Homo sapiens: one gene and its partners. The protein of the gene in region 1 purifies or fractionates together with the protein of each later gene. This does not show direct contact. Each region holds a gene or a part of one and is shown in the gene's direction. Other genes may lie near its edges.

Region 1 (4,698 bases):
AACAAACCACAATGGAGATGATAAATCTTGGCACAGCATCAGTGGGTACTGGCAGTGATTCTGCCAATTTCTCTCATGACTGTGACCACCGACGTTCTTTTTACCTGTATTAGGTCATGTGTGTAACAAAATTTAGAGATCTATCTACCTTGATAGGTTAAGAGATAAATGTTAATATACCTGTAAAACTCAGAGCATAATGACTAGACTATAAAAGGCACCCACTGGAGGTGAATTATTTTGCCATCACCTGATACTCTACTCCCTTAGGTTTTTATAAACCTATAAAATCTAAGGCAAAAGGTATTTGACCATTTGGTTGTTTCTGTCTTTCAGGATTGATATGTATATAGAAGGTATAGCAGATTTGGGTGAAATGATCCTCCTTCTGCCCGTATGTCCACCTGAGGAAAAAGATGCCAAGCTTGCCTTGATCAAAGAGAAAATAAAAAATCGCTACTTCCCTGCCTTTGAAAAAGTAAGTGAAGCAGTTCAGTGTTTTGGGGAACTGAGTTTAGAGGCCAATAGAAAAATAGTGGCTGGGCATTCCTGGGTCACTGATCTTCACTTTCAGTGAGACTTCCTGAACACCAATGCAGCACTCTGACTCTCAAGGCATTTTATGAAAATAGACTTGGAGAAACAATTGTATCATTTATACCCAAGCTATACTTTTCCAGTAAAATTTTAATTTACTGGACCCCAACATGGAATTACCTGTTCAACAAGATTTCATGTTCATAAGTAGAATGTGGGCTCTGGACCACACTAGAGGTTGCTGTTGAGTCTATGGAACCCCATGGACTTTGACTGAACAGGGGCATGATGAAAGCGATCCATCAGAAAATATTCTGGCACCATATGCAGGAAGATAGGAGACCAATTGCCCAACCAGAGAATACTGTAGCGTTTCAGGGATGGGTATTTTTTAAAAGGAGAGTGATTGTGGGATGCAGAGGAAGATTTTTTAAAATGGATTTTAGAGTAAGTTGCAGACATCAGTGCAGTTCACCCGTAAACGCTTCAGCTTGCAGATTATAACATAGTGCCAGTTGGGAGTGAGAGTCAATGCTGTAAGAAAGATGAATTCAGGTTCACCCAGGTTTCCTACAGATCCCAGGGAGATAGAGCAGGGAATGAGGAGAGCAGACAAAGAGAAATGAGGACTCTGAAATAGTCTCCTCCTGGGGAAGAGTGTTGTCATGAAGGTGGAGTCACTGCCCAAGGGAGATTGGAGAGGGAGAGAGCAGAATGTAGAGCCACATCCTGAATGTGAGGGCTCCACGCTGTAGGGCCTGGGGCAGACAGAACACATGGAGGCAGGTGCTAAGCCCCTGGCCCATGTGGAAGAAGCAAGCTGCGTGGGTGGTGTAGATGCCACAGTGATGTAGAATGAGAAGAGAAAATGGGAGCCTGAGCTACAACTGAGGAGTGAGTAGAGTTACAGTTCTTACTCTCTCATTCATTCAGATAATGTGGAGAAAGCTCTGGATTTCTGCACCCATGCAGTAAGGCAACAGAGGTGGGGAAAGTCAGGGTGGAGAGGCTCCGAAAGAAGCAGGGGTCCTAGCCTGGGTGTGCATGTGTTCCTGATCTGATTCCTCCCATTCTCCAGGTCTTAAAGAGCCATGGACAAGACTACCTTGTTGGCAACAAGCTGAGCCGGGCTGACATTCATCTGGTGGAACTTCTCTACTACGTCGAGGAGCTTGACTCCAGTCTTATCTCCAGCTTCCCTCTGCTGAAGGTGACCCATTTCACAGCCCAGAGAGGCAGCCCCACATCTCCCATCTTGGGATCTTGTATCTGGGCCCTGCGACTGACCAAGTTTTGCCCCAGTCTTCTCCAGGCCTTCAGTGCCCCAAGGTCTCCAAAATGAGCTTCCAGGCTCCAATTTTGAGGAATGAAAACACTTTTGTTATGGAAAGGAAATCTGTGCTGCATGCTACCCCACAAAGAGTATTTTGCCCTTTATTATGGAAAGAACCCAGGGCCCAGCATCTCTCCCCATCCCTCTATTTCAATGTGGTTTCTGTTCCTGAGTTCTCTGTGATGTCCTTTATCCCATATGTGCCCACAATGAGCCGGTCTGAGCAGAGCCCTTTCCATCTGGTTTCCTCCCTGGGCTCCGGCTCCTGCTGTCTGACATTGTGTTCCTCTCTGCACAGCTCTCCAGAACACTGGCCCCCCACACTGTATCTCTCACTGAGAAAAGGTGGTCCCATGGTTTGTCTTTAATATTTTCTATAACTATTCCCTTCCCAAATAATTTCCCCATGTTTTCACTTCTGCTTAGAGACTCATCTGTGTTGATATCTCACAGGCACATTATTTTTTCTTGTCTTATACAAGAGTCACTAATCTATAGGATTAGTGTGTAAGGAGAAAGATAGAGATGACTGAACTGATTAAAACTTCAAGACATCTTTGGGGAAAATAAAGTGAGCTACATGTCCTTCCCCTTATCTTCATTTCTCACTGGGTGTCTGTTTCTGCCTCCATGCTTGTGCTGATGGAGCAGACTCACTTGGTCTTTGCAGGAGGGGCTCAGATTCCCTGGGTCATGTTAATGGTGGTGTCAGCCCTTGGCTTCACTCTGAGGCTGTGCTTTATGAATTACAGGCCCTGAAAACCAGAATCAGCAACCTGCCCACAGTGAAGAAGTTTCTACAGCCTGGCAGCCCAAGGAAGCCTCCCATGGATGAGAAATCTTTAGAAGAAGCAAGGAAGATTTTCAGGTTTTAATAACGCAGTCATGGAGGCCAAGAACTTGCAATACCAATGTTCTAAAGTTTTGCAACAATAAAGTACTTTACCTAAGTGTTGATTGTGCCTGTTGTGAAGCTAATGAACTCTTTCAAATTATATGCTAATTAAATAATACAACTCCTATTCGCTGACTTAGTTAAAATTGATTTGTTTTCATTAGGATCTGATGTGAATTCAGATTTCCAATCTTCTCCTAGCCAACCATTTTCCTGGAATTAAAAATTCAGTAAAAAAGGAAACTATAGATTATGTGGTTTGTTTGACTTTTCCAAGAATTGTCCCGTAACATACAATTTGTCATACAATCTATTAAAATGTCAATGTAGAAATGCACTTCTGACATTTTCAGGTATGCACAGGAGAAGAGTTACCATCCTGGATAATGGCATAAAGACATTTTCTTCTTTTCCTGGACAGTCATTTTATTTCTGATAAAAGCGTTCTTTCTTATGCATTTGCAAAACAATGATTCTGTCTGCTGTGGATTCCTCAGTTTTCTAGGAGGTGAGGAAATACTGAAGAGCAAACAGACCCACCCTCTGCTCTCAGGCCACCCTATTGTCCCTTACAGTGTGTGTGCTCCTGGCTCATCCTCACTCTGCTCCTTAAGGCTCTGTGGGGTCCCAGGCATAAGCCTTCTCTCAGTTCCTTCAGTGCCACTCAGGCCTGGCTGCCACGATACAGATGGTATATGTGAAATACAAATAACTATATGCAAAATCATTTTTCCCTGGTGTGTCACTGTGCCAGAATGCTTAGATTAGGAGTGCTTTCTAGCTCCACCCCCATACTGGTCCCATAGTGCTAATCTCTCCCAGGACACCTGGGCTTCTGCAATTTGCACTCTCCTCCTCTTAGAGGGAGCTTCCCCACAGTTGGCAGAGGTGGTTGAGGGAGCAGACAAACACACAGGCTTCCTACCTGCAGCTTCACTTTGCTCTAGTCTCTTCTCCACTTACAACCAGAGTAGTTTTTCCAAAATACAAATTGGAAAAATACTCACAGAATTCTTCAGTGAGTCCTGACTGCATATACAATGCATCCTCACACCTGTCTTCACTCCGTGATCTTCAGCCCAGTCAACTCTCCGAGCATGGTGGGGCCTCTTGCCTTCCTGCCTGGGTGCGTTTGCTAGCCCTGCCTGGCAAGCTCCTTCCCAGTGGACACACTTAACACTACCTCATTGCTTCCCAGGAGCACTGGGCTGTCCTCTGCCCTCCACAGAGTCCCAGTGAGCCTCTAATAACACCTGAGGGCCACTGTGTCTGCTCCCCTGTACTGTGAGCCTGTGGTGTGAGGCTTGGCCTGCTGGGTCCCCAGTGCTTCATCACTAATGGACAATGACATCTGCACAGACCCATGCACAGCTCTATGCAACTCCAGAACCTGGGTATATGAGATTGGGCTTTGAGAACTCACAAACCCCCACACTCTCTACCTGTCTCTATTCATTCATTAATTTCTAAAAAAAAAAAAAAAAAATTGACTCATATCCCTCAAATGCTTTGTAAGGACCTTGCTTGCATGCTGACCAAAATAAACAAACTGCTAAGAAATTTTTATGGGACACTTACATGAACTAGAACGCTGGAGCTTTGATGAAATTAAAGAATTATAGAATTTTAATATGATAAGAGATTATCATATTAAACACAATCATAGTGTGATTATGTTTAGAAAAGAAGTTCTTCCTTTCTAGAGATGAATACTAGTATTTACAGATGAAATGATATGCTGTCTGGGATTTGCTTGAAAAGAATCCCCTGGTAGTGGTGGGAGTATGTGGGAGTTTGTATCATTTTCTTGTGGCTCCTGTCACAGATTCCTACAAACTGGGTGGCTTGAAACATCAGAAAGGCATTTGCTTACAATTCTGAAGGCCAGAAGCCTGAAGTCAGGATGTGAGTAGGGCCACATTCCCCTGGAAGT
Region 2 (4,376 bases), on another chromosome or scaffold:
CTGGGCAACAAAGAGAGACTCTGTCTCAAAAAAAAAAAAAAAAAAAAAAAAGACTTTTTTGCCTTAACCTAAACAAACACTATTACATGATCCTAGTACAAGATTATTTTGGCCTATAGCATTTTTTTCTCATTTATTCCTGGGCATTTTCTCTTTTAGGTTTCTCCATTTTAAAGGAACTCCAGTATTTTCATCGGTAAAGACTAAATCGTATGAGTGGTGTATAGACTAGAACCAAGCTAAATAGAACATGTTGCACGTTCTGCCTTTATGGTAATAATGGTCACTGCCTCTAGTGCCTTTGGTATCGATTTTCAGCTTGACTTGGGTTATTTTTGTGAAGATGAAATGGTTTACTCTGGCACTTTGGACTTTCCTCAGAGCTCCACTCAGTTTTAAACGAAAAAATTTTGTTTATTTATTTTTGGTAGTTCAAATCAGCATACTTCCAAATGGTCTGTTTTGTTTTTGAAGTTTGTAACTCATGGCTGTGGGGATATTGAGATAGAGTAACTCCTCCTAGAAGATTATGTTACTGATACCTGTGTTGTGTTTGTAAATTTGAAAAAATTAGTAAGATTTTATTCCTTCTTGAAACGTCAGGAAAAAAGTGGGTTGAGTGTGTGTGTGTGTGTTTGAATGGGTGGTGCAGTGCATTTCAAAGCTGATAGAGATGATTTCATAACCTGTGACCTGTTGATAATGTGAACCAGACTCGAGTGAGGTCACAATGAAATAGAACAAAGTCTTTTATGCGGGTTAAAGATTCATGGACACCGGGAAGTTGTTTTGTGTATCATTTTTCATGTGAAGTATTAAAGTACAAACTTTAACACACCCTTTGACACACTTCCAATGTCCTTAGGATATGACAAGGAGATCAGTTTTTAAGTAAGAGAAGGGGTTTGTAAATGAGTCCTGGAAATTATCGCATGCTATCGAGTTAAAGCCTCGGTTATATAATCTCATCGATTATAACTCACACCAGTGTTTTGTGTACCACTAAGAAAGAAAGAATGCTGCCAGTTAACCGTGACATGCTATTAATTGTGAAATACATCACCTTTCTTTCTTTTCTTTTCTTTCTTTCTTTCTTTTCTTTTCTTTCTTTTCCTTTCTTTTTCTTTCTCTTTCTCTTCCTCTTTCTTTTTCTTTCTCTCTCTTTCTTTCTCTCTCTCTCTCTCTCTCTGCATTTCCATTTATTTCCATTATCAGCAGGTGAAGAGGCATCTGCCACCTCACCCAGCTAACTTTTGTATTTTTAGTAGAAATGGGGTTTCACCATGTTGGCCAGGCTGGTCTCGAACTCCTGGCCTTGTGATCCACCCGCCCCTTCCTCCCAAAATGCTGGGATTACAGGCATAAGCCACTGCGCCTGGCTGAGAAAACATTTTTAACTGATGTTAATGAGCAGCTTCTAAACACATGATTAGGACGCAGAAGTCGTTCCCTCTGGTGGAATCTATAATGATTACATTAATTCATTTTGATTAATTAGAAATATTCGTATCTAAGAGCATCCATGTTGAGAGTTTTTTGTTTCTAAGTGGATTATGATTTATGTAAGATAGAAAAGACAATGGGACTGGGGCATGGTGGCTCACGCCTGTAATCCCAGCACTTTGGGTGGCTGAGGTGGGCAGATCACTTGAGGCCAGGCCACTTCATGACCAGCCTGGCCAACATGGCAAAACGCCTTCTCTACTAAAATACAAAATTAACCGGGCTTGGTGGCACACGCCTATAATCCCAGCTACTTGGGAGGCTGAGGCATGAGAATCACTTGAACCTAGGAGGCAGAGGTTGCCGTGAGCTGGGATCACACCACTGTACTCCAGCCTGGGCAACAGAGGGAGACTGTCTCCAAAAAAGAAAAAAAAAGAAATGGCGGGGATAACCGTGTAGTACTTATTTAGGAAATAGAAAAATAAGGGTATATTGTGTTTACTATTATTTCTTTCTTTCTTTCTTTTTTTTTTTTTTTTTTTTTTTGGAGACAGAGTCTCGCTCTGTCGCCCAGGCTGGAGTGCAGTGGTGCGATCTCGGCTCACTACAAGCTCCGCCTCCCGGGTTCACGCCATTCTCCCGCCTCAGCCTCCTGAGTAGCTGGGACTACAGGAGCCCACCACCACACCCGGCTAATTTTTTTTTTGTATTTTTCGTAGAGACGGGGTTTCACCATGTTAGCCAGGATGGTCTCGATCTGATGGTCTCGATCTCCTGACCTCGTGATCCACCCGCCTTGGCCTCCCAACGTGCTGGGATTACAGGCGTGAGCCACCGCGCCCGGCTACTATTATTTCTTTTAAGGTGGTAGTTTGGTTTCAGGGTCCCCCAGCACTGCAATGGCAGCCTATCCCTTCTGTCCTTTAGTTCATGCTCTGCTCATTGCACAGGTTAGGATAAACTGGTAGTAACATTGCTTCCTAATCATGTGTTGAGAAGTCGTGAAGATCAGTTAGATGAGATGTATTTTGTACTTTAAACTTTTTAGATACGAGCTTTGTCAAAGTACAAAATTGATCCCTATAAAATCTATGACACAGCACAGCCAAGGCCAACTACTGTGGATTCTGTTTTGTAAGAAGAGAGTTGAGGACTAAATTTCAATGTGATGTAGAGTTAATCCGTAGTAATGTTCATTGACCATTGGGGATAAATTTTTACATGCCCACATTACTTATTGTAAACCCTGAAGACCTTTAGCGATGTATGATTCTGCCCTGGAATATGTATTTACTCTTTTGGATATTTGCTTATATTATCTAGGGAAACATAGTTGAAATTATTTCTTCCTTGGAGCTCTTGTTAACAGCGCTATAAATAAGTGTTCTATGGAGTTATTTTTGCTCTTTGAAACAAACAGGTAAAACCTAAATAAAGCAAAAAAAAAAAACCACACACATTCTAAAAAATTCAACCAATCAAACCAGCAAATAACACCAACAACCTCCCCTTCCAAAAATTAGAGAAGTTTTTATGCTAAAACTTAGGTAGAATTTGCTTAGTGGATTAAATGTAAATACGAAATGAACTGTGGGAACTGTGGCCTTGAAATAATTAGAAGAAGAGAGATCATCAGGTTCTGCTGCTGGCTTTTTAGGTAGTAAAATGGTAAATCTTATATTTAATTTCATAAGAAGGGGGTTTACATTTTCCTGACCTTCTCCTTGAAGGCCAAAGCTGTTTGGCAAGAAGGGGTTGTAGGATGCAGTTTCTAAAGGAAGGCTGAGATCCTTTTCTCTTCTCTCCTGTAGACTACATTTGGTCAATTTTGTGGAACCTGTGGGCCTCAATTACTCCATGTTTATTCCTACCTTGCTGAATCAGGGCACCACTGCTCAGAAAGAGAAATGGCTGCTTTCATCCAAAGGACTCCAGATAATTGGCACCTACGCCCAGACGGAAATGGGCCACGGTTAGTCCACATTGAGGGTCTGTGGGTAACCCACCTCAGGACATCAGTTAACAGTGATTGCTGGCATTTGACTTTTTTCTGCTGCTACCTGTTTGGGATTCTATTTTTAAGTTGTTAAGTCAAAATTCAACTTCTTGTTTTCTCCTAGACATTTTCCCTGGAAACTGGTCCAGGGCTCTGGCCTATAAACGTCATTCACTGTTATTTCCTAAAGCCTTTTATTATTGAACAGCTTGAAAAGATGGGGTTTACAGTGCAGCGGGGAACCCCATTATGTTACTCTGGGTCTAATGAGTAAAGACTTTGTTGGAAATTCTTCAGAGGGTTAGTGCCTCAGCAATATCTGGAAAGCGCCTCTCTGCTCTAATGCAGTTAAAGCTGTGGATTTTAATGGGGGCAGCAGGCAGTGGCAGCTACCTGTCTCATCTCATTGCCCACTAGCAGGGTTATAAGGCAGTTTGGAAAAAAGTCCATGATTCTCTTCATCTGACTTCAGTCTTTTTAGACATTTTTTCCCCTACATGTCTGGGAACTCTTGTGTTGCCAGTAATTCTTTGTTAAATTGTTCCTAAATATCTGGCTTCCTTCAAAAAGTTTTGCTTTTGATCTTAATGTGAAATAGGTTTGTTTTCATAGACAAGGCCATTGGCAGGTTTGAGTGTTTGGAATTTGAACTGCCCAGCCTCATGTCTAATTATCAAAATGGCAGGAGTAAAGAAAGGGAAAGAAAAAGGGATGCAGATATCAGGGAAACATCATTTTGTGTTTGATTGCTGATTTCAGTGTGTGAATTGGTTTAAGGAAAATGTTATTTATTGTCATCTCCATGGGTACTGCAGCTTTCTGGTCATGGTTTGATGTTCCAGACACTTTACTAAACACTCAAGACTTCAACTTCAAGATGGTCAGTACTGAAATTATAAGCCTGAAAGAAAGGTTTGTAAAGGAAGATAAGATT
Region 3 (4,376 bases), on another chromosome or scaffold:
ACTGCGCCCAGCCGAAGGGACAGTTTTAGTTGTCCGCAAAGCCAATGGAAGTAGAGAGAGCAGATTATAAGCTATGTAAGAGCTAGGTTTGACCAGGTCACAGTGATAGGCTATAAGGGAAAGAGAAGAAATTTTAGGGTCTGGCAACACACCAAAGTAAATCGGGAATATGTGAGGACAAACAGATGTGGGAGCAGGGACGAGAGTTGTGGAGTTTAAGTACCATGCTGGACCTGAGGATATACTGTGATGGAACCGTTCAGTAGGTACCTGAGAGGCTGGAGCCTCAAGAGTCTAAACAGAGATACAGATTTGGGAATCATCGTCCAGTAGTGATTAAAGTCACAAGGTCTAATAGAAAAAGCAAAGAATACTGCCACGTTTTGGGGCTCTGTAACGGATGCTGGAGAAATAAAGGTGAGCCAGTCCAGGTCTTGAGCCTCAAGTTTGATGATTTCTCTCTTTGCCCTGTACCTAGCTTGCCAGGCCTTGTGCTGGGCATCAGGGATACGTGCATGCAAACAAGGGTTCTTTCTTTAGGGAGTCCCTTGGGGGAGACACATGTAAAAGAAGATTAATTGAAGAAGTTGTGGTGTTATTACAGAGAGATGAAGTATTGTGGTAGTTTAGATGACTGAGCTGCTGGCTAGGGGCAAATTACAAAAGCTTTGTAGAGTCGGTGACATTTCAACTGGATCTTTCGAAAGAAGTTAGCCAAGTAAAGGAGAGGGAAGAGAGAGATTTTGGGTGGCAGAGGCTGGATATGCAAGTTTGTAGAGTAGATGGTAAGTAGTGTCCAATAAGGGTGGAGAGATGAATTGTAACCAGAGTATGAAAAGTCTTGTATGCCAGTCTGTAGTTTGGATTTTCTTTAGGAATAGAAAAATCAGTACAGTACTCCAAAGCAGGGCAGTGATGTAATACGCTTTACTTCAGCAAAACAACTAACAGCCATAATTTTCACTCGTGCATTTAATTGGAGTGAAGAGTACAGAAAAGTCAAATCTTTATTGTTGTGGAAGATAACATGTTGAGCATTGATAATGCCAAAAGATATTAAATAGATTATCAGTCTTTAAATAGCTTTCAGTCCTCTTGGGGAGACACAAATGACTAACAATAAAGGCAGTGAATAAACATGTAAATGGTGCTGAAGTTGAGGTATTTGCACGTTATAAGATGAAGTAGTCAAGGAAGGTATATTCATTTGCTTGGGCTGCTATAACAAAGTACTGCAGACTGGATGACTCAACAGATTTCTTTTCCCACAGTTCTGAAAGCTAGAAGTCCAAGAACAAGGTGTCAGCAGGGTTGGCTTCTTCTGAGGCTTCTCTTTGGCTTATAGATGGCATCTTCTTGTCCCTACTTGGTCCTTCCTCTGTTCATGTCTCTGTGCTAATCTTCCTCTCCTGTAAGAACACCAGTTACATCAGTTTAGGGGTCACCCTAAAGCCCTCATTTTAACTTAATTACCTCTTAGAGACCATGTCTCCAAGTATGACTACATTCTCCAGGTACTGGAGGCTAAGTCTTTATCATATAAATTTGGGAGGGAAGAGTGGGGACACAATTCAACCCATAATGGAAGATTTTATGGAGTAGCTGGAACTTGACCTGAGCTTTGAAAGGTGATTAATATTCTGAGTAGTGTGCTGAGGAGGGGTTTAGGTGAGTTCTAGGACTTTCCAGATTGGGGAGTGGGAGAAGTCAGATGTGCAGGTTAGGTCTTAGAGACAGAGTATCTGGAGCAGAAAGGGATCACTAGGGAATAACTAAGGGAAAGAAAAAAAAATTTTTTTTTTTTTTTTGAGACGGAGTTTCGCTCTGGCTCAGCTGTCACCCAGTGGTGACTGGAGTGTAGTGGCACGATCTCAGCTCACTGCATCCTTCACCTCCCAGGTTCAAGCGATTCTCCTGCCTCAGCCTCTCGAGTAGCTGGGATTACAGGCGCCCGTCACCACACCCGGCTAATTTTCGTATTTTTAGTAGAGACAGGGTATTACCATGTTGGCCAGGCTGGTCTCGAACTCCTGACCTCAGGTGATCCACCCGCCTTGGCTTCCCAAAGTGCTGGGATTACAGGCATGAGCCACCACACCTGGCTAAGAAAATTTTAAAAGTCATTTGAAACCAGATTTTATAGAGACCTTTAGTCATTGTTTTAAAAATTTTAGCCTAATGGAGAACAATTGTTTTTATTATTTTATTTTTAAACAGGATCAAAGCTGGTTCTCTTCATTCAGATCTTAGGTCTCAGCTGAAATATTCCATCAAGGTATTTTCTGACCATCCTCTCTAGGCACTGCATCCAGCGATATAGCACCTTATTTATTTCCACCATAACTTTTAGCAGAATCTGAGGTTGTCTTTTTTATTTGTTTCCTTAGCATCTGATTTATCTCACTAGAAAGTGGGGGTCTTGTCTGTTTGGTGCACCCCTATATTTCAGATAAATCTAACCATGCCTTGTACAGAATTGGAATTCAGTAAATAAGTTGAATTAATAATAGGAATATTTAACGTGTATGTTGGGTGAGCGATCAAAGCTTTGTTCTAAGAAGCTCAGTCTAGAAGCTGTATTAGGATGGGTTTGGAAGGCATGACAAGGAACAGTGAATACCACGTGGAAATATATTAGGGTTCTTTAATAACAAGAACAGAAACTGTCTGGCTTGAATGGAAAAAGTAGTTTATTGTAAAGATACAGGGTTGCTCTTGGACTTAAAAGAAAAGCTAAAAAACTGGGCCAGGAAGAAGGACAAAAACCAAGCTAACTCCAGGAATCTATGTAGCAGGCACTAGCAAGGTTGCATTTTCAGGCCTCCGTTGAGATAAGTCAGCTTCATTTATTTATTGCCTTTGTCATTCTTCTCAGGATTCATATTCCGAGGACAAAGTTTCTGATTGGTTTGGCTTTGGTTGTATGGTTAGCCCAGAGGTAGGGGAGAGGAGCACATCAGGCTGTAGCACACAGTGGGACAAGAGCAGTTCTTCTATAGCAAAATCATGGGGCTGTTAACAGGAGGTGGAATGGCTGTGTAGTGGCTGGAAGAAAACAGCAAAGGCTGTGACCAGAGTCTGCTCTGCTAAGGTGCAAAGGAGCTTGAACTATGTTGGAGTAGGATCATTCTCCTGAATGTGGCCAAGAACAACCATCAAACCAAAATCAAACCCCCTTGTTAGAGACTGAAAGTGTGGTGAAATGGAATACAAGATAGTAACATGACTCCTCTTGAAGGATTGGATAAGCTAGTCTAGGTTTGAAATCTGAGGATATTTGCGTTGTCACCAAGTGAGTGATGATAAGACCGAAACTCAGAGGCAACTTCCTATCACCATCAAATAGTAAAATCCAATGGTAGGTGTTACGGCTAAATCCTGAAATGAGGGTTTGGGGATAAGCAGTCTGTGTGTGTGTGTTTATGTTCCAAAGTCAAATGTAGATGCTTTGTTTTTTTAACTAGGTATTTGCCTTGTGTTACATGCATTCCCTCTTTTTTCTAGTATCATGGTTAGGACTATAGAAGCAATCCCCAACATTCCAAAGGACCCATGTTCCCAGAGTTGAAATCTAGGTTGATGCTGGATGTAAAGAGCCATTTTCCTGTAGAACTGGTAGTAGCAGTTTTGTGGCTAGTCTGGGAGCCAACTTAATTTATAGTGTACCTTAGCTATGACACTAGTCCAAGTAGGTGAGATTATTTTGATCCCTTTCCATCTCTGTTTCTCACCCCCTCACTCACCCCCTGGTACCCTTCTGAGTGCCAAGTCGCTTTGCTTTCCTCTGCTTCTCACTAGAATGCTCTATATTCGAAATTGCCTACCTTCCCTCTCCCTCAAAAATCTTAATTCCATACAACTGATTTAACACTCTATAAAGAGGAAAGTATTTGCATTGAATTAATTTATGTTAAGATATGAGGCCGGGCGCGGTGGCTCATATCTTACAGGTGGCTGGCCTGTAATCCCAGCACTTTGGGAGACCGAGGTGGGCAGATCGCCTGAGGTCAGGAGTTCGAGACCGGCCTGACCAATATGGTGAAACCCCATTTCTACTAAAAATACAAAAATTAGCCAGTCCTGGTGGCTGGCGCCTGTAGTCCCAGCTACTCAGGAGGCTGAGACAGGAGAATTGCTTGAACCCAGGAGGCGGAGGTTGCAGTGAGCCAAGATCATGCCACTGCACTCCAGCCTGGGTGACAGAGTGAGACTCTTCAAAAAAAAAAAAAAAAGATGTGAGATATGAGTCCCCCACCCCCTTAGCATTTATTACCTGAGGAATTTGAAGTGATGGTATGAAATAATCTTCTGGAATCCAGTTCTGAAGGGTTTTGTAGCCATTCCAGGGAATTGGAAGTTGAGGCCAGGGCAAGCCC

The links. The genes of interacting proteins can lie anywhere in the genome.
Region 2: the proteins of GSTA1 (region 1) and ACOX1 purify together in Homo sapiens (affinity purification with mass spectrometry; 2 studies listed by BioGRID and IntAct, with this or other methods). This does not show direct contact.
Region 3: the proteins of GSTA1 (region 1) and ZBTB21 purify together in Homo sapiens (affinity purification with mass spectrometry; 2 studies listed by BioGRID and IntAct, with this or other methods). This does not show direct contact.

The regions. Positions count from the first base shown.
Region 1 is NC_000006.12:52,789,905-52,794,602, reverse strand, and holds the end of GSTA1 (glutathione S-transferase A1), read left to right. Parts: intron 1-336; coding exon 337-478; intron 479-1,615; coding exon 1,616-1,747; coding exon of another isoform or gene 1,748-1,879; exon of another isoform or gene 1,880-2,555; intron 2,556-2,622; coding exon 2,623-2,745; 3' UTR 2,746-3,232; downstream 3,233-4,698. UniProt on the Homo sapiens protein: Glutathione S-transferase that catalyzes the nucleophilic attack of the sulfur atom of glutathione on the electrophilic groups of a wide range of exogenous and endogenous compounds.
Region 2 is NC_000017.11:75,972,667-75,977,042, reverse strand, and holds part of ACOX1 (peroxisomal acyl-coenzyme A oxidase 1), read left to right. Parts: intron 1-3,257; coding exon of another isoform or gene 3,258-3,418; intron 3,419-4,376. UniProt on the Homo sapiens protein: Involved in the initial and rate-limiting step of peroxisomal beta-oxidation of straight-chain saturated and unsaturated very-long-chain fatty acids.
Region 3 is NC_000021.9:42,003,861-42,008,236, reverse strand, and holds part of ZBTB21 (zinc finger and BTB domain-containing protein 21), read left to right. Parts: exon of another isoform or gene 1-417; intron 418-4,376. UniProt on the Homo sapiens protein: Acts as a transcription repressor.